Homo sapiens: one gene and its partners. The protein of the gene in region 2 interacts with the protein of the main gene of each other region in a pairwise test. Each region holds a gene or a part of one and is shown on either strand. Other genes may lie near its edges.

Region 1 (9,417 bases), on a different chromosome or scaffold from region 2:
CTTAAATATTTGTATTGTCTTTGAAGGCAGAATTATTCTGGGAGAAACATGAATGCAAAATAACTTGATTAATGAGTCTTGAATAACATTTCTTTTTAAAGAATTGTTATAAATTACAGTATTATTTCAACATTGAGAATAAATTATTTGGTTTTTCAAACATTGCTCCATGAATGCTTTAGAAAATCGTGTGTAAAGTGAGCACTTATTTGAGAGCTAGAGTCTTATGTTCTGCCTTTTCCCCCCCAATTTTTGAAGTTGGTTTCTTGTTTCCTTCACCTTCAAATTGATTTAACAGGCAGTTTCATTTTCCATATGAAATGAGAAGACCCTTTGGTCAAAAAGTCATCTTAAACTTCAATTTAGCCATCCTAAATACATGTCAGGAAGTAATCCATAATATTAATGACAAAACAAACAAACAACAAATGGTTAGATATAAACTGAATCCAAGAAGACCATTCCTGGGCATTATAATAATATGTTTTGTTTATGTGTTTATTTCCCAGGCAACTCCAGAAAACTTTGGTGAGTCTATTTTGAGTTTTGTTCTAGGTTATAGAGAACCTAGGACATATTTAATGCTAAACATCATACATAATTACATATGCATAATTGATGCATAATTGCATTGAACTTTGATCTAATACTGGATTCTTTTGATTTATGGAGGGACATTTTATTGTCCATGTTCCAGGCTTCATATGCCCAGCAAAGAAATAGATGGTATAGGAAAGGCCAAGCACAGTGACTGACACATAGACATCCCATAAATGCTTGCTATTATTGTTTTTGTTATTTTGTGTCAAATCAGATGGACCTAATAATAACAGTCTACTCAGTATTCACTTGCATACTCGGAGATTTGGCCATATTATATACACCTTTACAACTTAAAATAGTAATTCAAGTTTAACTTAAGAATTTTGCTTGAAAGTTCCAAGGTATACTACTAGCAAGTGATATACATGTATGAGTAGATTGGGCTAGTTTGACCAAATTTAATCATTTGTTTGCTATTTAATCTAGTCTTCTAGTCTTTCAAATTATGCTTAATAATATATGGAGCAACCAATTTCTTATTCCCGAAGTCATTTGACATTCAAGGAATGTCGATAGGACAGAATACATACATAAAAGCTCTTTAGAGCCCAACCTGGCTCATAGGAGATTCTTAATCAATCAATCAATCAATCAATGTATGTTGAGTCTGAATCTAGTAGTCACCTGAGGCCAAAAGAAACTTGCTTAGTTCTGATTATATAAATGATAAAGGTTTTCTCCTTTTATAAACATAATGTTCAATTTTTTGTTGTTGTTGTTTTAATCAAAGATGTAGATGGCGGAATGGACCAGGACATATTTGATATCAATGAAGGTTTGTGGATTTTTTTTACATAATCTCTTAAGTAGAGAGTTTGAATCCAATTTGCTAACATGAATTTTTATCTTTACTCTTAGGTTTGGGACTGGATCTTTTTGAGGGTGACATCAGACTTGATAGGGTGAGTTGAAACAGTATAAGGAAGAATCTTCCATTAACCACTGCAAGCCAAATTCAGAGTAACTGAGAAAGATTAGACAGCATGAACTTTGTTAAGCCTAACTATCTCTAAGGGTGCAGAATCATGGTGACACATTTATTCAATGAATATATTATACTCAAAGAAATGCATATAATTGTGTCTTCATCTTTCATTACTCATATTTCTGTGTGGTTCAAGCCACCATAACTCATTACATATGTCTTAGTCTTATTGATTTGATTGATTTTCATTATTGGAGCAATATGACATTTGATTTTAAAATAGGACCTCACAGATTCAATCTAGTGGAGGCAAAATTAAACTGAATTTGTAAACATCTTCAATGAATCAGGCTTTTTACCCCAATAAATAGATTTTGTGACTTCTACCCTGGCCTTAGCTAAAAATAATGTTGCCAAGTTAAGACCCTCCCAAACCTATTCATAAAGAGTGCTGATTCTCATCTAAGTCATCATGCCACACAGATAAACACAAGAACCTTGCAGGTAGATTAGGGGGACTAAAAAGTTCACTATCATGAAAGCACTGTTTTTTTCAGTGTTCTCTCACAGCATGGAAATAAGCACTATTTTTCAAAAGACAAGATATAGTTTATTGCCCACTAGATTGAAAAATATTAAGAAACTTACTACTTACTATCCCTTTTGGTGATGATAGAGAGAAACTAGGATGCTTGTTTAGGAATGTGTTTAGAACATGTTATTATACTGGAGAGTGTATAAATTTGAAAAAAAGAAAGAAGGCAATTTGAGAAGAGCTAGCATAGTTTAAAATATATACACCATGTGGCCTAGAAATTACCCAGTAGATCTTTTCCTGTAAAATTCTGCTCTTCCTTCCAACACAGTCCTAAGTCACTCCCTTACTTCCTATATCGTAAGCACCAACATCCCTCACAGTCCTCCCACCCCCAGGAAACAGAGCTGCAGTCTCCCAGGCTTAGTCCTGAGCCTACTCTTCTATCTGTGCTCTCTCTTGATCTCACCTTCGTCCAGGGATTCAAATGTCATCTCCATGCCAATGAATCCAAAGGCATATCTCTGGTCCTCTCCTTTCCCTGAGCTCCAGACTGGTCTATCCAAGCACTAATTTGCCAGCTCCACTTGAATGTCTACAAGACGTCTCAAACCTAAGGTGTCCTCTGATCAGGTGAACTCTGACCTTCCCCCCAAACTGTTCCTCCCCACTCTCCTGTCTTCATAAAGTCATCCTCACAACCTGACTCTACTCAACTGAACACATAAAAACCTTGAGCGCCACCTTTGCTTCTCCTCTCTCCTTCACTCCCCATCCAGCCCGTCAGCAAGTTCTATCATTTCTAGCTCTAACATACACTGCAAATCGTCCACTTTTCTCCATCACTCTAATTCAGGCCCCATCATCTCTTGCCTGGCTTTTTCCATTAGCCTCCTAATTTGTCTTTCTATTTCAGATATTGTTCCCCTATAATCTTTTCCACCCTGTTACTTGTCCTTATCTCTCACAGCAAAGTCATTTTTCAAACAGGCAGTGACTTCATTTCACCTCCTGGCTTGAAACTCTTCCATAGTTGCCTATGGGTTTAGAATCATCTCCCGATTTAGTCCCAGCTGTCTAAGCCTAGCATGCCTTAGCTCCTGCTTCTGTCCTCCCCTCTTCCCTCCCCTCTCCTCTCTTTTCCTCTCCTCTTATCTCATCCACGTTCTCTCTTAGACTCATCAGGCTACTGGTCTCAACACATATTCAAAACATCCCAGGCATATTCCCACCTCAGAACAAGAACAACTAATGTTCCCTCTGCCTGAAACCACCTTCCCAGGACCCCTTTCAATGCTGGCTCTGTCTTGCGATCCCTATTTCCCCTTAAATATCATCCCTTCATAGACGACTGTCCTGATCACTCCATCTCATGTACTCCGTCATCCCTGTGCCCTTGTTCACATCTCTCTTTCTAATTTCCTCCCTATTGCATTCATCCTGCTTAAACATTTTTTTTTTTACATACTCTTTCTGTCCTCCACTAGATATAAGCTCCATGAAGCCAGAGACCTTTATTACCAAGGAATCTCTATTCTCTAGGACAATATTCAATTTGTGGACTGAGTAAATACATTAGTAAAATATTACTCATTTTCTATTATACAGTTTAAAATCCTTTAAAAATTTTTGAAAACTTTGGCCCAGCTCATGTGTGACTTTTTCTGATATTGTGAGATCCAGATTATCAAGGTCTTGCTATCACTGTTTTCTTGCAAATTTTTAATCTTTAAGTGTAGGAAACTAACCTATAAATCTACCAATATTTGTAGTTCAGTTTTCCAACAGTTATTTTTTGCATTATTCCTTCTTCAACTGTATTAACAAAATGATAGAAATTAGTAATTTCTTCCTAGAAACTTTGTTATATTATGATAAAAGTAGGGCTACACACACACACACACACACACACACAATTTGTTTGTGCGAACTGGGAGAGCTTTAAACTTCATTTATTTCTAGATTAACTACAGGTTTCCTAAGTGTTTGCCTTATTTGTTTAACTAGCCCTTTTGCATTTATTTTTGACAGGCACAAATTAGAAATTCCATCATTGGAGAAAAGTATAGATGGCCTCATACCATTCCATATGTTCTAGAAGATAGCTTGGGTTAGTATGCACCTTGAAGTATCCATAACTAATGTCTATTTCTGACAAAATATGATTATAGTGTTTCAAAGGGTGGGCTTATATAGTCTTTAAGGTTTTGTTTGGTTTGCTCCTTTGTGTGGCTATGTACATTTACTTTGAAAAAAAAAATAAGCAAAACGAACAATGAAAGTAACCTAAATGACTCTGTCTGAAATATTTACAGTGTCTTGACCAACAAAGCAATGAGTTCAACCAACGTTTATGGAGAGCCTACTCTGTTATGCTAGGGACATAACGATTAGGGAGCCAGTCTTTTTTTGTGGGGGAGGGGCTCTGCATCATATATTCATTGAACCAGTGCAAAAACATCTTTTGGAGAGCAGACAGGCCAGGCCAGGGTCCCAGGAGGATGCTCTGCTGGGGGTGCAGTGAGGGTGAAACATGGAAGAAGAGGGCCTTGCTTCCTCTTCCCATGGCAGGTATGCTCCTTTCTCCTAGAGTCTGGATCCCTGGTGAGTGAGGCCACTGACTGACTGTCCATCTGCCTGTCCCTCTCTATCCCTGCAAGTTCGGGGAAGAAGGGTCATTGGCAGCCCGGGGCTGGGAACCCAGGTCCTCTGGTGCCCCCGCTGGCTCGGGCTCGGTGGCCTTGGGCTCCTTGGCCTCATCCCTGTTTCTGCTGGCCTTCTGGAGCTGGTGTCACTGCGCCACCTCGGCTTTCAGACTCTCCAAGTCTTTTTGGCTGAGAGGAATGAAGAGGATGCCATTGATGCCTTTGAACTGCTCCAAGACGCTGGCCATGCTGGGGGCTGTGAAGTTGAGGGGCGGGATGTTGTTGCTGGAGCCGTTGCGGTAGATCTCATGCATGGCGCGCCGCAGGGCCACGGCCAGCTGGGTCAGGCACTTGAGGTACTCAGAGCTCTCCTTGGTCTTCTCCTGGTCCTCGCCCAGCTGGGTCTTACAGAGGGTGTGCAGCCAGCCCTTCCTTCTGGTGCTGCAGGGCCGACCGGAAACTCAGCTTTGCTCTCATAGACCGAGGTGATGAGGTGGTGGCCAAGGGCCACCTTGAGAGCTTTGGGCCCTTGGTACTTGGTGCTGACGGCCAGCGCGTTGTCCAGGAAGCACAGCGACAGGTCGTACTCCATCACCCTGTGCAGCACCCGCCTGATGTTGTCCAGCACGCCACCTCGGGGTGTCTTCCCCAAGCACCAGCGCATGAGGTAGTGGGCGCCCTGCAGCAGGCTGAGGGCCAGGGACAGCTGCCTGCTGGTGAAGCAGTGCAGGGCCAGGTGCATGTTTTCCTGGATGGTGTTGGGGTGCTCGATGCCCATCACCCGCACGCTCATCAGCACTGCCTTCTGCTGGCTTCTCAGGGCCTCTGCGTACTTGCCCATGATGTAGTGGAGGCGGGCAAGGAGGCGCAGGCAGGCTCAGATCTCCACGTGCACTGCTCCCTACACTTGGTTAAACAGGTGCAGGGCCTGATTGATGGGCTCACAGGGAGCCAGTCTTTATTTTAAAGCAGTGGTTTACCCTATGATCAATTATACATATGAGAAAATACATAAAATAACCAACTAAATTTGAGGAACTGGCATTGTTTTATCAACATTTTATTTTGCCAGGTCAGGAACTTAAACAACAACCTAACATGATAAAAGAGCTTTCATCATCCTCTTTTCATACAGTAAATAATGTTATTAGTGTAGTATTAAAATGTTAAAAAGTCAGAAGAATCAAATCCAAAACTAAGAACAGCTTTTCTATAGAAGAAATTTAAATATGTTGGAAAACTCTAAACATGGTCTTCATTTTAATCTATGGACTAGTGGCAATGATGCCACTGACCAGCATTAGCTTAGAAATTGCTGTTTGGGAAAAGTTTGAGTAAAAACCCTGCTATAGTTTTTTAATTTTTAATTTTATTTTTCATTTTTGTTTTTTTTTTTTTGTTTTGAGACAGAGTCTTGCTCTGGAATGCAGTGGCACAATCTCAGGCTGGAGTGCAGTGGCATAATCTCGGCTCACTGCAGCTTCTACCTCCCAGGTTTTGGCGATTCTCCTGCCTCAGCTTCCCGAGTAGCTGAGATTATAGGCATGTGCTAGCACACCTGGCTAATTTTTGTATTTTTAGTAGAGATGGGCTTTCACCATGTCGTACAGGCTGGTCTCGAATTCCTGGCCTCAAGTGATCTGCCTGCCTTGGCTTCCCAAAGTGCTGGGATTACAGGTATGAGCCACTGCACCCAGCCTGTTATAGTTTTTTAAAATTTCAACTTTTATTTTAGATTCAGTGGGTACGTGTGCAGGTTTGTTACATGGGTGTGTTGCATGATGCTGAAGTTAGGGGTACAAATGAACCCATCACCCAGGAGTTGAGCATAGCACCCAATAGGTGGCTTCTTCAACCCTTTTCTCCCTCCCTTTCCCCTCTTGTAGTCCCCAGTGTCTTTTGTTCTCATCTTTACATCCATGTCTATGCAATATTTAGCTCCCACTTATGGGAAAACATATGGTATTTGGAAACCCTGCTATTTTTCTTAAAGATCATGCATTTCAGTGGAGACTCACATAAATCAAAAGTGAATTATGATAGAATGGAATAAACATTATGATTAGTGATGTGTTCAAAGAGCTATGGGAGCACATTGGAGGGGCAGTAAACTCAACCTGGATAGAAAAGCATATGCATTATAAGCAGAGGACGCTATATAGCAGGACTGCCATGAAGACTGTGTAAGTTGTACACCGTACAACTGACATGACCTCCTGGAGCTGGTGCTGCCATGCCACCTCAGCTTTCAGATTCTCCAAGACTTTTTGACTGAGAGAAATGAATGAAGAATGCCATTAATGATGTAGAGCTGCTTCAAGAGGCTGCTCTCAGGTGGCTGGGCCAGGAAACAAGTGGAGCTGATACCAGGTTTACGTTCTTTCTGTTCACCAGGAGGCATTTGTTTCTTTGTGTGAAAGTGCTGTTCACCCATCTGGCCAGCCAGCAACTGCAGCACCTGCTCAGAGGTAGTGCCTCTTCCTAATTGGCACACAGGCACCATGTGGGCTAGTGTGGCCTCTGATAGCAAGGGAAGGGTGCTTTAGCCAGATGCATCACGATCTGCTAAGTCCTGAAGAAGGGAGAAAATCCTGAGCTGGAATTTAGATTGAGAGTGGGGAGCTAGGAAGTTGAGCAGGTAGGCGGAACGCAAATGGGGAAGGACTTGGGTCTTCCCGGTGTTAAAGAACTTGTCGTGTATACTAATAACATGGGGCCACCAAAAGTATTATTGTGGAAGTGAGATTGTTAAAATTGCAGTTTAAAATAATCACTTGGGTTGAAGTATAGAAGATGTGTCATTAGTGGGGTAAAAAGAAGATAGGGAGACCAGTTAGAAAACTACTGAGGAAATTCAGAGAAAGAATTAAGAGATTCCTAACCAAGATAAATCTAAAAGCTATTTGGGATGCATTTGTTAGATTTAGTGATTGACTGTAAGAGGTCAAGAAGAAGGTGGGTGTAGAGAAAGAGATTCTAGTGCTCAGGATTCAGTCCTGGGTAGCTGAGGGCATGGTAACGTCTTCAACAAGAATGGAGAATTTAACCTTGAGGAGCATGAGACAGAGAAGCATGGTGGAAATTAGTTTTTGGCATGCAGAATTTGAAATGCATCAGAGTCACTGTGGTGGAGATACCAAATAAATTCTTGGTATATGACCTGGTCATTCAAGGTCGAGAAATGTTTGGGAGTTATTAGGATGTAAGAGATGGTTGAAGCCGTGAGTATGGATGAGCATTTCACACAGTGCCTTGCATAGAGCAGGTGCTCCATAGATAACTGGATTTTATTGATTTATCCTGGAAGGTTGTGTTGAATAAGTAAGAAGATGGTCGAGAATGAAACTCAGTGCCATTTTTTGGAACTGGTATAGAAGGAAGATCTAGTGGAAGTTATTGAGAAGGGGGAATTGGCCAGAAACATAGATAAAAAACTAACAGTAGGGTAGGGAAAGCCAGGGCAGGAGTAGTTAGCGGGGTTGGAAGCCATAAAGAGCACAGGGGGCATGAGGAGAGAAAGATGTTCATTGACTTTTGGAATTAGGAACCTGAAAGATTTTGAATATACATGTTTTTTTGGTTTAGTCTTTTGATTAAAAAATTTTTAAGTTCTTTTGTTTTAATTCTTCCTTTTTTTCCTTTCGTTCGTTCCTTCCTTCCTTCCTTCCTTCCTTCCTTCCTTCCTTCCTTCTTTCTTTTTTGAGACGAGTTCTCACTCTATCACCCAGGCTTCAACCTCTGCCTCCCAGGCTCAAATGATCCTCCCACCTCAGCCTTCCAAGTATCTGGGACCACAGATGCATGCCACCATGTCCAGCTAATTTTTTGTATTTTTGGTAGAGATGGGGTTTCACCAGGCAATCCACCCACCTCGGCCTCCCGAAGTGTTGGGATTACAGGCGTGAGCCACCACATCCAGTTATATTTCTTTTTTTAAAAAACTTATTCTCCTAAGTATGTTCCATGAAAGATTAGGGAGCTTTAATTTTATATATATCTTAGGCTATTTTTTTTTTGCCATGTATTTAACCATGAGCTTTATTTATTTTTTAAACAACATTATAAACAACATAATGAATGCCTTGAGGATAAGAGCTATTTTTCATCTTGCAAATTGGAGGATTACCATAGTCTCTGGCGTATTATATGTAATAACATTTTTGAAATAAATTGATAAGCATATGTATATATATAAATGAAAAATGTTAGGTAAAAATTCAGCCTAGATCCTACCATCCAAACTGTGCACATTTTTACATAGTTATAACTATGATGTCTTAAATCTTTTGTTCTAATTTTTTCACTTAATGTTATTGCATTTTTTCATATTGTATAGTCTTTATAATAGAATCAAACTTCAAATTTTTATAGAACAATTTTTTTCAATTATGTGATTTTGATTATTTCTTATTTAGAAAATACTTTTGTTTAATATTGTAGAATTCAACTTGTTTTCTATGTTCAAATTAAGAAAAGTATCCTTACGTTTCAGAAATGTATACCATCTTCAAATGACTCAGACTAAGAAAATTACTAAGCAAGGCCACTCTTACAGGTAGCAAAAATAAATACCTATGAAGGGTTGATTTCTGGAAGGCCCTATTACTCAGATTCTAGTAGGTCAAACTGTGAAATTCTACCAGTAGGGTTGTAGTCTTTGAGCTTGAACTTCAGATGTTACCTGGCTGGTAGATGCAACTTCCCTGAAA
Region 2 (9,417 bases):
CATGTTACAGACAAACTTGGGAAATGCTTACCCTAGTGTAAAAACAAAAACCTTTAAAAATGCTCCATGATATAGCTCCTTGGTTATATAAGTGAGTCATTTATATAATTGAGCTACTTAAAAAATGAATTTTTACGATTAGGATCTGAATTTATTACCAAAGTTGTTTTTATTCTACAATGTGTTTATTTTTTTTAATTCTACGATTTTATTTTTCCATTCGTTCAAGTAGGAATTATTCCTCTCCAGAAATGAATTTTGTTTTGCTCTACAGTTCTTCCTAAGAAAGCCAGTGGTTTTTACCTTCATTCAGTTGGTCTCTGCTACTTTCTTCAACCATAGGGATAAAAATAAAGGAAGAAAAAATTTTCACCTAGGAGGCTAAGACACAGATAACACATTATTACAGCTTGTATCTGTCACTAGTTAGGCTAGAATTTAGTCTATGACTATAAGGGAAGAAACATGTTTTAGAAGTTAGTTCTGATTTGAGCAATTAAATTGCAGTTACCTAGTAGTTGTTACTGTGTTAGTCCGGTACAGACACTTAGTCATACTCCAGAAAGTCTAGCTACATATAGCCCTGAGGCCTACCCCGGGCTCTGCTTTATGGAGGAGACTCAAGGAAAAACGGGATTGTGTGCACAGAATAAAGCATACAGACCCCCGTGAGCAAATATTCAGGCGGTCGGTGTTACATTAGTCTAATCAAGTCTGTTCATTGCATAACCAATATGATTGTATAATTGTCCAAAAGAAAGAAAAAGTATTTGAAAATGGTGGTCTTTAGTAGCATCAAAATCCATGTTGCTTAAAGTGTGACCTGTGAACACTGTCTTAGTCTGCTTGGGCTGCTATAACAAAATACCTTAGACTGGATAATTTATAAACAATAGAAATTTATTGCTCACAGTTCTGGAGGCTGGGAAATCCAGGACCAAGGCACCAGCAGATTTGGTGTCCGGTGAGGGCTTGCTCCCTGCTTCAAAGATGGCATCTTCTCACTGCTTCCTCACATGGTAGAAGGGTCAACTGGCTCCCTCAAGCCTCTTTTATAAGGACACGAATCCCATGCATGAGGGCAGAGCTCTCATGCCTGTTTCTTTTCTTTTGAGACAGAGTCTCGCTCTATATTGCCCAGGCTGGAGTGCAGTGTCGTAATCTCAGTTCACTGCAACCGCCATCCCTGGCCGCCCCCACCCCCGCCAAATTCAAGCAATTCTCCTGCCTCAGCCTCCCTAGTAGCTGGGATTACAGGCGTGTGCCACCACGCCTGAGTAATTTTAGTATTTTTAGTAGAGATGCGGTTTTGCCATGTTAGCCAGGCTGATCTTGAACTCCTGACCTCAGGTGATCCACCTGTCTCAGCCTCCCAAAGTACTGGGATTACAGGCGTGAGCTACCACACCTGGCCAAGCCCTCATGTCTTAATTGCCTCCTAAAGGCACCACTATTTAATACTAATACATTGGGTATTAGGTCCCAACATATGGATGTTGGGGGAACACAACATTCAGACCATAGCAGTCACCTTCATTTTAACTATTCTCCATACCTCTTGTAACTCTTATGCTCCCTAGCCAGAGTTATTTTTTAAAATACAGGTTCATCTATTTAGCAAAAATCAAATGCCAGTCACATGTGTGGCACTGTGGTAGCACTTTAGATATGGCAAGAAATAAGGTAGTCATACTCTCTGTCCTTGTTGAATGAGCAGTCTACCCAGGCAAGAAATAGGCAAAGTAGTGACCGTGTGGTAAGCCCTCTAAAGTAAATAAACAGTTCTGGTAGAGAAGACCTGAGGAATGAGAAGGGGCCAGCCAAGAGCAGAGCCAGGGAGAGGGAGAAGAGTGTGTCAGGCCCTGAGGCAGCACACAGCTTAGCTCTGTGTGAGCAAAGAGTGGTGGGGGAGGCACCAGAGAGGTGCAGGTGCCAGCAGGTAGGGTCAGTGGTAGAAGTGTGCATTTCATTCCAGATGGTGGTAGGGAGTTTGCATTTTCTGATTGCCTTGGATGGGTTTTAAATAGGGGGTGACATGATACGATTTATATTTTAAGGTCACTTTGGCTGCTGTGACCTCTGTAAGGAGTTCGCGATCTTGCCAAACTATTGCCAGTAATTTACTTCCTTCCTTTCTCACCTTTCAGCCTTTCTCTTGCTGTTTCCTCTCCTTGGGCCATCACAAGAAGGGGAGTAGTGTCAGTATTGGGTCAAGAGACTGCAGGATGCAAAGATGAAATTGGGAAAAGCTCACTTGGCTTCCTAGCTTTTCTCCCTTTGGACTCCCTTTGGAAGTCTGTGAGTGAAGCTCAGGTGCACCTGGCTCCTGGTCAGGGTCTGCTGCACGTTGGAGCATGTAGATGGTTGAAGACTTGCCCAGTGCTCACTGGGGAGCAACCAGTACCTTATTGTATACCCCTCTTCCTACTGGTTGTTCTTTCCGTGTGCATAATTTCCCTTTGAGCTCTTTGAGAACAGGGTCTTTCATCTCTGACTTCTAGTTTCTAGAATTTTTGGCCATCTTATATAGGCAATTCGGAATCTAATTCCAGCCTTCCTTTCATCAAGAACTGTTGACATAATTACCTTAATCTCCTTACTTCCCTCTTTTACTGATAACAGGAGGCAGACTACTGGAAATGTTTATTATAAAGATAGACCTCCCCCCATTGCTAAGATATAATTTAGATACTTATAAATTGTACACTTTTAAAGTATGCAGTTCAGTGGCTAGTATGTTCAGAGTTGTGTAACCATCACCACTGTCTAATTCCAAAACATTTTTATCACCCCAAAGGGAAACCATCACCAATCACTCCCTATTCCTCCTACCCAGCCCCTGGAAACCACTAATCTGCATTCTGTTTCTATGAGTTTGCCTATTCTGAGCATTTCATGTAGACGGAATCATACAATATATGGCCTTTAATGTCTGGTGCAGCCCTGCTTCTAATGGGATTGCACAAATAAGAGTCCTCTGGAGGGTGTATGCTGTGCTGCACCCTCATATGTGAGTAAGTCCTCCTGGTGCAGTCCCTCCAGGGTGGGCGCTAGTGAGCCAGGGCCCTAGTCCTGTACTTGCTCCTTTGTACAAATGGAATTGTGAGGCAAACTCAGACTTTATCTTCTATTTAAGGAAAGGGGAAGGTTTGCTTTCTGTCCTACCCAGTAACTTTTTTGCTTAAAATTCTATAAAAATGTCTATTACTTTTCCTCTTTTTATTTCATATTTTCCTTAAGACTTGGGCTGCCACCTTCCTGGGACTATCAGAGTTGGGCCTTAAAGATCAAACAGGTAGTCCAGTTCCTTTAGTTTTAAAATGACAATTCAGGGACAGAGAAAGGTGGAGTGTGTTTCCCAAGGTCACACAGAGGCCAGGCTTGGTCTGGAACTACACAGGAATGTAAAGCACATTTAGGCATATTTTAGTGCCAATGTTAGAAAGATTAAATATGTTTAGGGGGCGGGGCATGATGGCCCACATCTGTAATCTCAGCACTTTGGGGTGCTGAGGCAGAGGGATTGCTTGAGGCCAGGAGTTCAAGACGAGAGTCCAGCACTATATATTTAATCTTTAACAACACTTTTGAAATCTCATACCCAGTTCAGTAATGTGTCATTTTAGTTTCTGTGTGTCCTCACAAGCCCATTTTAAACTTTTGCTGCTGGTGTAAAGAGTTATATTGCATTTAGCTCTTTGTATGACTCCTGAAATCTGTGTAGCATTTTATTTAACAGATATGTACATATCTCTGTCTAAGTGCTTTGCAAATATAGCTCATTTAATCCTCAGAACAACCCTATTATGTAAGTGCTATGATTATTCCCATTTTTACAGATGAGGAAACACAGAAAGAGAATTTGAATAACTTGATCAAGGTCTCACAACTAGCAGATGATGAAACTGGTATTTAAATCCAAAGAATCTGGCTCCAAATTTCATGCTTTTAATGATTACGTTATGCTACCTCCCTTGTGGCTCTTTGAATGTCCCACAAACACAACATCACCTTATGTAGAGATGAAAATTAAAAAATGTAGGCCTTTCAAAAAAACAGTTGACCCTGTCAATACATTACCTTTGTGCAGTGTATTTTTCCTCTCAAATAAGGTACTGTCATCCCAAATCATATATCTGCACACATAGGCATTGACTGTGTTTTGTAGACATTAGTTAGAATATGTTACTAACAACTTTTCTTATCTGTTATGTAGCTTTGACTTATGACAGCAGAGGCTTGCTCTGTTTTACTAGCACAAGGCCACCTGAAAATGGCACACTGAACTGGATTTCCTAAGGGGATGCAGCGTTGCCTTTAGTTCTGTTTCAAGAGACAAGTATCTCAAGGGAAGATGTTTGGGGATGACCCCTATCGAGGTCAGATCAGAAAGGGATGGCAAGAAGGTTAATTTGAAGAAAAAAAACAATGAAAATATCTACAAGAGTTGTAACACAGTTAACCACAAGTAAAAGCAACAGCATCCTCTTAGCTAAATGATGCTCAGCACACAAAGGGAGGACACATTCTGGGGAACACAAGTTAAAAAGAGTTGCAGTCTACTTGCTTAAGGTGTGCATTGACAGACTCCTAAAGAGGTTTATTACCCAGAGGAGACTTTGAGAAAGTCACCGTGGTGTGAATGACAGTTGTGAACAGACACTTTCTGTTTTGCAGCTAGTCACTGGAAGCAGAGCTGTTTCCTTAACAGTACTGGAGGATGTGTATTTGTAGTTCTCTTCTTGGACTCATTAGTAGGGGGTGTATTTGTTTTCTTGTGGGTTTTTTTTTTTTTTTTTAAATTGTAATTATGTTTTGTTCTTTTTTACTCATGAGAACTTCAGAGCAGATGTATTTTCTACTGAGCTGCCTATGTTCCCATTACACTAGCTTTTCTCTCTGGATCTATATGTGCTTTGTTAAAGTGTTGAAGAGCAGAGCAATGCATGCCTGCGCTTTGCCTTCTGGGGTAGTATGAAGCACAAGCCAATGTGGCCTTCTGGCCGATGTGCACTTGGATAAAAAATATAACAGGCATTCTGCAAACTGTGACTTAAGCAATTTACTTAAACATTTAAATCTTTAATTTACTTAATTTAAATCTGAAATCTTAAGCATTTAAACATTTAACCTTCCTCAACTTTTTTACTGTCCTTGTTTCACTTAACATTACTGCTAAGAGTGCTGGACTCTTTTAAGATGAAAGTGTTGTGGAGAAATGAAAAAGTAATAAAAATATCCTTATAACAACTTGTGACTATTTTGTAAAATAATGACAGCCAGCGTTTCAGTTAAGGTTCGCCCGCTTGCCTGTGTCATAAAGAAAATAAAGTTTTAAAAAGCAAATAAGATGAATGATTTAAATTATTTATTCATGATCAGAGTTTCTGGGCTCTAAAGCAGTTGTGGAGGAGGATCTCATTTCTAATACTCTATTCTGGAATGTTCCTTATGAGCTTTTTTTTTTCTCTTTATGAAGGCCCTGGAGATTTAGTCTATTTGTCCTTCTTTCTGTCGTAGCCTCCCTCATCTCCTTCTGACCTGGACTTCTCTTTTTCAGGACTGACTTTGAATGAGGACTCAGTTTTCAACTTAATTTTTTCACATGGCATTTAAAACAAGTATAAATACAAATATAACATGTTAAGGTATTTAGTGGTGATTCATAACATTAACAATTAATTTTGGGGAAGTATGAATTAATATGGCAGAAGTTTTAAAACAATTTCAAAATTGTGAATGAAATTACTTTTTGTAGCAGCTGAAATATAAGTGGGGGCTGTAGAAACGTACCCTGACTTCATTCTGTCACTTGCACACTTTCCTGATTCCAGGGAGTGGAGCTTATCAGTCACTCTGAGTCATGTGTCTACTATATATATCCTGCAGCCTCTGATAGACCAAGTGATCTAGTTAAGGGATCGCTCACTTGTCTAGACTGCGGTCCGCATCTAAGGTGGCCCTCCTTTACCTAGGAAAAGGCAGCTTAGGTTGTTCCCCTTCTAAGTTGTGAGGTTACTTGAGATTAAGTTAAACTTTATGATACCAATCTGACACAGATACTTATAGAACCACTGGTTTTATTGACAAAGGGTTGTCCCAGTGGGATTTGCATCTGCTCTTTTATTGCTCCTGGCATTAATCTTTTTTACCATCAATCATTCAAACAGTTTTTTTGGGGGGACAGGCAGGGAGGCTGAGATGGGTGGATTGCTTGAGTTTGAGACCAGCCTGGACAACATGGCAAAACCCCATCTCTACAAAAAATACAAAAAATTAGTACACGCCTGTAGTCCCAGCTACTCCAGAAGCTGAAGTGGGAGAATCACCTGAGCTTGAGAAAGTCAAGGCTGTGGTGAGCTGTGTTGATGCCACTGCACTCAGCCTGAGTGACAGAGTGAGACCCTGTCTCAAAAAAACACACACACACTTGGGAGGCTGAGGAAGGAGAATTGCTTGAACCCAGGAGGCACAGGTTGCAATGAGCCGAGATTGCGCCACTGCACTCCAGCCTGGTTTTTTTGAGTGTGTTTTTTTTGAGACAGGGTCTCACTCTGTCACCCAGGCTGAGTGCAATGGCATGAACACAGCTCACTGCAGCCTTGACTTTCTCAAGCTCAGGTGATTCTCCCACTTCAGCTTCTGGAGTAGCTGGGACTACAGGTGTGTACTAATTTTTTGTATTTTTTGTAGAGATGGGGTTTTGCCATGTTGCCCAGGCTGGTCTCAAACTCCTGGGTGCACACACACACACACACAAACACACACACATTCAGTTTTGAGTTATAAAATGTTAGCTAAAAGGGGTCTTAGAGACTAAGCTGCTAGGGTGATAGCCACCTGTAACAGATGTGGAAATCAAGGCCACAAACTGAAGTTAATTGACATAGGTCACAGGTGTGTTGGGACCAATTCAGTCTTAAGTGTAGGGATGTCTGTCCACATTCCGCATTGTTATATTTGACTGTGACTGACTCTTCCATTTTGCATTTAAAAACAAAATGGTGGATAGTGGTAAATGAGATCACTGTAATTAAACACCAAAAGATTTGACCACTGAATGACTGCATTTTTTTCTTTATACTTCATTATAGGTATTCTATAGACTCATCTTAATTTTTTTTTTTTTTTTTTTTTTTTTTTAGCCAGGGTCATACTCTGTCACCCAGGCTGCAGTGCAGTGGTGCAATCATGACTCACTGCAGCCTTGACCTCCCAGGCTCTAGCTATTCTCACTCCACTGCCTCTGTAATCTTTTTTCTTTTCTTTTCTTTTTTTCTTTCTTTCTCTTTCTTTCTCTTTCTTTCTTCTTTCTTTCCTTTCTTTCTTTCTTTTCTTTCTTTTCCTTTCTGTCTGTCTGTCTTTCTTTCTTTCTGTCTTTCTTTCTTGATGGAGTTTCCCTCTTGTTGCCCAGGCTGGAGTGCAGTGGCGCAATCAGCTCACTGCAGCCTCCACCTCCCGGGTTCAAGCGATTCTCCTGCCTCAGCCTCCCAAGTAGCTGGGATTACAGGCATCTGCCACCAATTTTTTGTGTTTTTAATAGAGATGGGGTTTCACCATGTTGGCCAGGCTGGTCTTGAACTCATGACCTTAGGTGATCCATCTGCCTTGGCCTCCCAAAGTGTTGGGATTACAGACATGAGCCACTGTGCCCGGTCAGTCTTTCATTAGTCTTTCTCGTACTGTTTGTTGGTTTTCTCTCTTGCTTTAAAAGCACATATACTCTGCAGTGAAAAAGATATGTAACTTTCTGATCACGCATAGTTTCCTGCCTTCTTTTTTTCTATGAAGGAGAAAAATATTTTCCTTATTGGCATGGAAACGAACTAGTGTTTATGTCTTAAAATGTCTGATTCTTTTTTCCTTCTTATTTGAGGTACTGATAATAGGAAAACCATTTTGAATTACTAAGAATTCCTACATCATACTCTCTGATAAATACAGCCAAAAGCAATCCCATGCATGGTGGGCATGGAGGATGGTCAAGTTATGTGTCTGCCATAACAAAAAGGATTATAAACATTATGGTCCATGTTCTTCATATTCAATTTCCAAAGAACCTATCTTAACCTCTGGAATATTTGCTATTAAACATAAGTTACCACATTAGAAATAAAATATAAAGCAGATGGACCAGAAGATGATTCCTTTCTGTTCTTTACCAATAGGACATCTTAAAGCTTTTTATCCATATATATGGATAAAATTAAAATATATATGGGTATAAATGGATATATAGATATATTTTAATGAACTGCTTTTTTTTCCACACTGTCAGTCTCTGGTAAATAGTTGATATTGGTACAACTGGTTTGAATAATAAAGCCAATGCTGTGAAGACATACTATTACTTAATTTTATGTCATTTGGCTAGTTTGAATTGTAGCAACTGAGTTACTTATGAACCATGCACAGAACACATAGTATGTACCTATGTGTCTTAGGTGTGAGTAGCCAAAAGCATGTGTATATGGAGCTGATTATTACCTCTTGAGCAAACAGCTTAACTTTTATAAAATTCAGTTTTCTCATATGTAAAAGGTGGGGATAGGGTTGGGGGGAGTTGGGATAATATATGTCAAACGTTTAGGACAAATCAGGCATTCTGTAAGTGCTCAATTAAGGGGAGTTAGTTTCATTAACATATAAAGAGGAAAATTGACTTAATCATAGTCATAGTTCTTTAACTTTGTGTCATTAAGCTTTTCATTGATTTAAGGAAAAACCTTCCTAAGAGTATTTTCTTTCATTTATTTTTTCACTTTCATTTTTTGTTCCTTGTCTTATTATTTTTTTCCTGTACTTAAATCAGCTTAAGACATCATTATTCAAAGAATAAAACACAGTAAAGTTTTGTTCTTCCAAGTTAAAAATATGTGATATGGCTAGTGGTTTTCTTCTGTACTGGTACAATGGTGTATATGTTCCTAAGCATTGAGTATAAGTTGGACTAACAATTTTTTAATATTAAATCTTATGCATAAGAAATGTGAACTTGGTCCTAAAAGCAAGAACTCAAAACAGAAATATAAAAAGGTTGTACAGTTCACATATAAAAAAGCATTTGATCTATTTTGCATGGTAAGAACAAAATAGATCTGAATTAAGAACTTGTAAAAGTGGATGTTTTTCCAGATGGATTTATTGTGTCTGAAATAATTTGAAAAATAGTATGGAAGGTTGTCCCTTTCCTGTCTCCCTCCAAGTAAGCATTAGCTGTAAGTATTTTGAAATATTGATTGATAGATGAAACCTCAGCAAAAGAAGAAGAGCACATTTTGACCAATACCGAGCTTAAGCTTAGCTTAGAAAGCTTTTGGTGATGATGCACACCTTTTATGTCAGTTCAGTGAGCTGCAGCCATTTACAGTGGCCTAAAGAATAATGACCTTGAATTACCTCATGTAAGAAGTCTGG
Region 3 (5,015 bases), on a different chromosome or scaffold from region 2:
ACTTTTTTTTTTTTTTTTTTTTTGAGACAGAATCTCATTCTGTCGCCCAGACTGGAGTGCAGTGTCGTAATCTCGGCTCACTGCAAGCTCCGCCTCCCGGGTTCACGCCATTCTCCTGCCTCAGCCTCCTGAGTAGCTGGGACTACAGGCGCCCACCACCACGCCTGGCTAATTTTTTGCTATTTTAGTTGAGACGGGGTTTCACCGTGTTAGCCAGGATGGTCTTGATCTCCTGACCTTGTGATCCGCTCGCCTCAGCCTCCCAAAGTGCTGGGATTACAGGCGTGAGCCGCCGCGCCCGGCCTCATTCCATTAACTTTATGAAATTCTCTTTTCCTTGTTATCACCTTAAAGTGTCCAGCAAGGAGATCAACTTCAAATCAGTTTCTGCAAAACTTCCATCCCATCAGAAGGTTCTATGCCAACCAATTAAATCCCCATTTGTTAGATTATGTCAGTCTTGTAAAAGGAGACAGCAAAATGATTAGAGTATGCATAAGTCATTTCCATCAACAGGTTTCAAGCAGTCTTTACTTGGGTTTAAAAACAGTGCTTCATGCATTTACAATAAGTTATTACAGAACTCTAAGTCACTGATGCACACACAAAAGCTAAACCCAACTTACTAACTATGCAGACCTCTCCTGATCTCCCCAGGCTGGGCAGTAATTAGTACCTTACAGGTGTGATCCATGGCCCAGAGAAGGCAGCCACTGTCAGTTACAGTTGGACTGCTGCATCACAGTGGAGGCAGCAGAGTTGAAGATCCACAGAGGGCTGTAATACAGCCCAGAAAAGACAATGGAGAGTGAAGGCTAGAAACATTGAGGAAGGGGTCAAGAAGCACTTGTACTTCCTGTTATCTTTTCCAATAGAATATTCCTGCAAGTTACCCATCAGAAAAAGGTGTTCAGAGGGTTTGAAAAAGAAGTGGTTAGCCCATGCCAGTGAAGGTGACAAAAAACAAAACAACTTGATTTTTGGTCATATCAGAAAGGATGGAGGGAAACACCCAAGTACATGCACGGACACATGTGCTCCAGCCAAAGGAGTGCTGTTTTCACCAGCCACAAATTTTCTAACAGCAACAACAAAAACCCACAGATGTAAGTAACATGGAAGTGGATCAGTCCTAAGCCAAATAAGGATTCCCACCTGGGGCAAAAGCTGACTTCCTAGGACATGAACTGAACACATCACAGTAAAAGCCCAGTAGAGGCTGCTGCCAGTTCCAGCTATTAGTAATTATGAGGGGGACAGGATGACACCTCACACGGACCACCCCTAGCAAGAGGGTTTGTTTCAGTTCTAGCTGTGAGAGGAATGTCTGCAGTTCCCACATGTGTGCCATGCTGTGAAGCCCATGGCCCCTGCTCCTCTCTCTGCCTCCCACACACTTAACAGTACACACAGACTTTGCTGGCAAGTGCTGTTTGTTCCTGCACTGCTATACTATACGACTGCAGGACAATGCCATCCGCTCCATGGTTCATTCAGCGCCTTGTCCCAAGGTAGTTGGTGGAGAGCAGGACCACGTTGTGCAGCAAGAGAGACAGCTCAGCTTCTGAAAACACAGTGTTAGTGGTTTGGCTTGGGAACACTGCCTTATAACTGCCTTGTTATATATGGCTTAAGCCTGGAGGCAGGAAGCCAAGTGCAGGGAGGGGTGGAATGAAGAAGCTGTTTTTCTCAAAGTTCCCCTTCTTTGTTTCAGCCCCTGTATGCATGCCTTCCTTTCCTTCTACTATATATTCGTATCAACTCATCCTCTATTTCTCATGTGATTGCAGTAGAAAATTCAGAGATGGTAATGGTACTAAACACCAGTCGCGTTGGGATTCTTCTGGTAGAAGTTGGTGCTCTAGGGACATTTCTCAGCTTCAAGATTAGTAGGCCTACCCTAACATCCAAAGGCCCACAAAACATCAAGACCTAGCCTAAACAGGGGGCAAACAAGCCTAATACATACCCTCAGATGCTTTGTGTTTGGTCAGCAGACTGTTTTTTTTCTGAGTTTGAATGCCTTTAGACCAGTACTTCTCAACGGGGACAATCCTGCCTCTCTCCTCCCCACCCCTAGGACATTTGGCAATGTCTAGAGACATTTTTGGTTGAGACAACTGTGGGTGAAGGGGTGCTACTGGCATCTAGTGGGTAGAGGCTAGGGATACTGCTATAATAAATACCTATAAAGAACAGGATAGGCTGGACATGGTGGCTCACGCCAGTGATCCCAAAACTTTGGGAGGCCGAGGCCAGCGGATCACCTGAGGTCGGGAGTTCGAGATCAGCCTGACCAACATGGAGAAACCTGGTCTCTACTAAAAAAAAATACGAAATTAGCTGGGCGTGGTGGTGCATGCCTGTAATCCCAGCTACTTGGGAGGCTGAGACAGGAGAATCACTTGAACCCAGGAGGCAGAGGTTACGGTGAGCCGAGATCGCACCATTGCACTCCAGCCTGGGCAACAAGAGCGAAACCCCGTCTCAAAATAAATAAATAAATAAATAAATAAAGCACAGGATATTCCCCCCATAAGGAAGTGCCAAGGTTGGAAAATTCACACTAGCATGCATTCACTCTTAGGTTTCCACAGTCCCCACTACTCCCTCTTGTCTTATGGCCTACTTCGTTACCTGCCGGGCATGCAGTAGGCATGTGAGTTTGTGCCCTTTCAATTAGATGTATGTATATATATGTCTCACAGTACTCAATAATTAACTCCAAAATGACCTCAGAATAAAATACAAAAGTGACTTGGATTTTAGTGGTATAACCACAGAAATGTGTTTTACCTTTCAGGCTGCAGGAAATCTGCAGCCATTCTCCCAGCCAAGTTCGACACCTATCTTCACCAATATGCGTAGAATTCAGGCCACGGAGATAACAAGCCTATACCACTCAGAACAGAAATGGTCCTTAATAATCATAGAATGATTATGCCAAGGAAATGGAAATCCACAAACAATCCTAAATCTCCTTTAAATAAGTTACAATCTCACCGGGCACGGTGGCTCGTGCCTGTAATCCCAGCACTTTGGGAGGCCGAGGTAGGCGGATCACGAGGTCAGGAGTTGGAGACCAGCCTGGCCAATATGGTGAAACACCATCTCTACTAAAAAATACAAAAATTAGCCAGGCGTGGTGGCATGCACCTGCAGTCCCAGCTACTCGGGAGGCTGAGGCAGGAGAATCACTGGAACCTGGGAGGCGGAGGTTGCAGTGAGCCAAGATCATGCCACTGCACTCCAGCCTGGGCAACAGAGCGAGACTCTGTCTCAAAAAAAAAAAAAAAAGTTACAATCTCATTCCCACATGAAGCCTTTCCTCATGGCAATTTGAAAACTAGTGATGGACAAGATGACAAAAGCAAAGAGTCCTATATAAGCTAAAATAGTAGGTCTAAACTGCAGTATCCTTGCTTTCTGAAGTGCCAGAAGAAAAGAAATACAAACCAAAATTTCTGTGGGCAATTCCTTCCCCCTAGCTAAGTTTCTTGAGAAAAAAGACACAGAAATGAGGTGAGGAGCTGGGCGCAGTGGCTCATGCCTGTAATCCCAACACTTTGAAAGGCCAAGGCGGGAGGATCACTTGAGCCCAGGAGTTCAAGACCAGCCTGGGCAACATAGTGAGACCCTGTCTCTACAAAAATAAAAAATAATTTTATTTTATTTTTTGGGTTTTTTTTGAGACAGAGTCTCACTCTATCACCCAGGCTGGAGTGCAGTGGTGCGATCTTGGCTCACTGCAATCCACCTCCTGGGTTCAAGCAATTCTCATGTCTCAGCCTCCCAAGTACCTGGGATTACAGGCATGTGCCACCACTCCTGGCTAATTAAAAAATAATTTTTAAAAAGGCCGGGCACAGTGGTTCACGGCTGTATTCCCAGCACTTTAGGAGGCCAAGATGGGAGGATTGCTTGAGGCCAGGAGTTCAAGACCAGCTTGGTTAAAATAGTGAGACTGAAAAATAAATAAATATGCTGGGTGCGGTAGCTCACACCTGTAGTCTCGGCACTTTGGGTTGATGGATCTCTTGAGGCCAGGGGTTTGAGATCAGCCTGGCAAACATGGTGAAACCATCTCTACTAAAAATACAAAAAATTAGCTGGGCGTGGTGGTGCACACCTGTAATCCAGCTACTTGGGAGGCTGAGGTAGGAGGATCACTTGAACCGGGAGGCAGAGGTTGCAGTGAGCCAAGACTGTGCCACTGTACTCTAGCCTGGGCAACAGAATGAGACTCTGTCTCAAAATAAATAAATAAATAAAAATAAATCATAAATAAATAAATGAAGTGAGAGAATAAAGAAGCTGGGTTCTATAAACAAACAAGACAAGGAGCCCCTGTAAACCTCCGGCCTGCCATAGGCTCAAAAGCACACCAAGGGTTGAGGGTTGATGTTGCAATCAAGCTCTTACCGATTTTACTTCCTGAGCAGTCAGCTGGCCAATCCCCAGCTTTGCCAAAGCCTTGTCCAGTTGGTGAATCACAGTTGTATGAGTCTTCAAACGATGTCTCAACAAGGGAGGAGGCAGGTAAGATGTGAGAAGCATGGCCCGGCTCAAGGCTTTCTGTAACACAACCACATAGGAGGGGAAAGGCAAATAGTATGAGCTCAAGCAAACACCTGAAACATGGTGATGCTATGGAAAAGAGAAGCCCTCAAAGTGCTCACCACGTGCAAAGCCTGGAGTTGGTTCATGCCCAGAGGATGGTTAGAGAAACACTCTCTCAGAGCCAAGATATCATGTATTGCTGGGTGGGTACCACGCTGTATCTTGGAAGAGGTAAGAGATTTGTAGATGTTAGGAAAGTCCTGACTACTCCTCTTACCTAGTTTAGTGCACACTGAATCTAACAAGATTCCACATTTGTAGGAAGGGTTAACTGCAGGAATACCTTGGTGCACAGATCTGTCAGACGCCACCGGAGTCCTGCATCAGAAATGAGAGGGATGACCTTTTCTAAATAACTAATAATTTCTGGGTGGGACTGCTTCCGGAAAGCATGA

What was found.
Region 1: the proteins of REEP5 (region 2) and MEP1B interact in a protein complementation assay, tested with the Homo sapiens proteins (one study listed by IntAct).
Region 3: the proteins of REEP5 (region 2) and LETMD1 interact in binary tests that used the Homo sapiens proteins (3 or more experiments, as listed by UniProt).

What each region holds. Positions count from the first base shown.
Region 1 is NC_000018.10:32,191,313-32,200,729, forward strand, and holds part of MEP1B (meprin A subunit beta isoform 1 precursor), read left to right. Parts: intron 1-509; coding exon 510-528; intron 529-1,333; coding exon 1,334-1,378; intron 1,379-1,461; coding exon 1,462-1,505; intron 1,506-4,094; coding exon 4,095-4,173; intron 4,174-4,514; exon of another isoform or gene 4,515-5,655; intron 5,656-9,417. UniProt on the Homo sapiens protein: Membrane metallopeptidase that sheds many membrane-bound proteins. Exhibits a strong preference for acidic amino acids at the P1' position. Known substrates include: FGF19, VGFA, IL1B, IL18, procollagen I and III, E-cadherin, KLK7, gastrin, ADAM10, tenascin-C.
Region 2 is NC_000005.10:112,911,263-112,920,679, reverse strand, and holds part of REEP5 (receptor expression-enhancing protein 5), read left to right. Parts: intron 1-9,417. UniProt on the Homo sapiens protein: Plays an essential role in heart function and development by regulating the organization and function of the sarcoplasmic reticulum in cardiomyocytes.
Region 3 is NC_000012.12:51,055,910-51,060,924, reverse strand, and holds the end of LETMD1 (LETM1 domain-containing protein 1), read right to left. Parts: coding exon 4,904-5,015; intron 4,782-4,903; coding exon 4,680-4,781; intron 4,576-4,679; coding exon 4,423-4,575; intron 2,920-4,422; coding exon of another isoform or gene 2,894-2,919; coding exon 2,797-2,893; intron 2,322-2,796; exon of another isoform or gene 2,187-2,321; intron 1,565-2,186; coding exon 1,494-1,564; coding exon of another isoform or gene 1,490-1,493; 3' UTR 501-1,489; downstream 1-500. UniProt on the Homo sapiens protein: Plays an essential role for mitochondrial structure and function, as well as thermogenesis of brown adipocytes.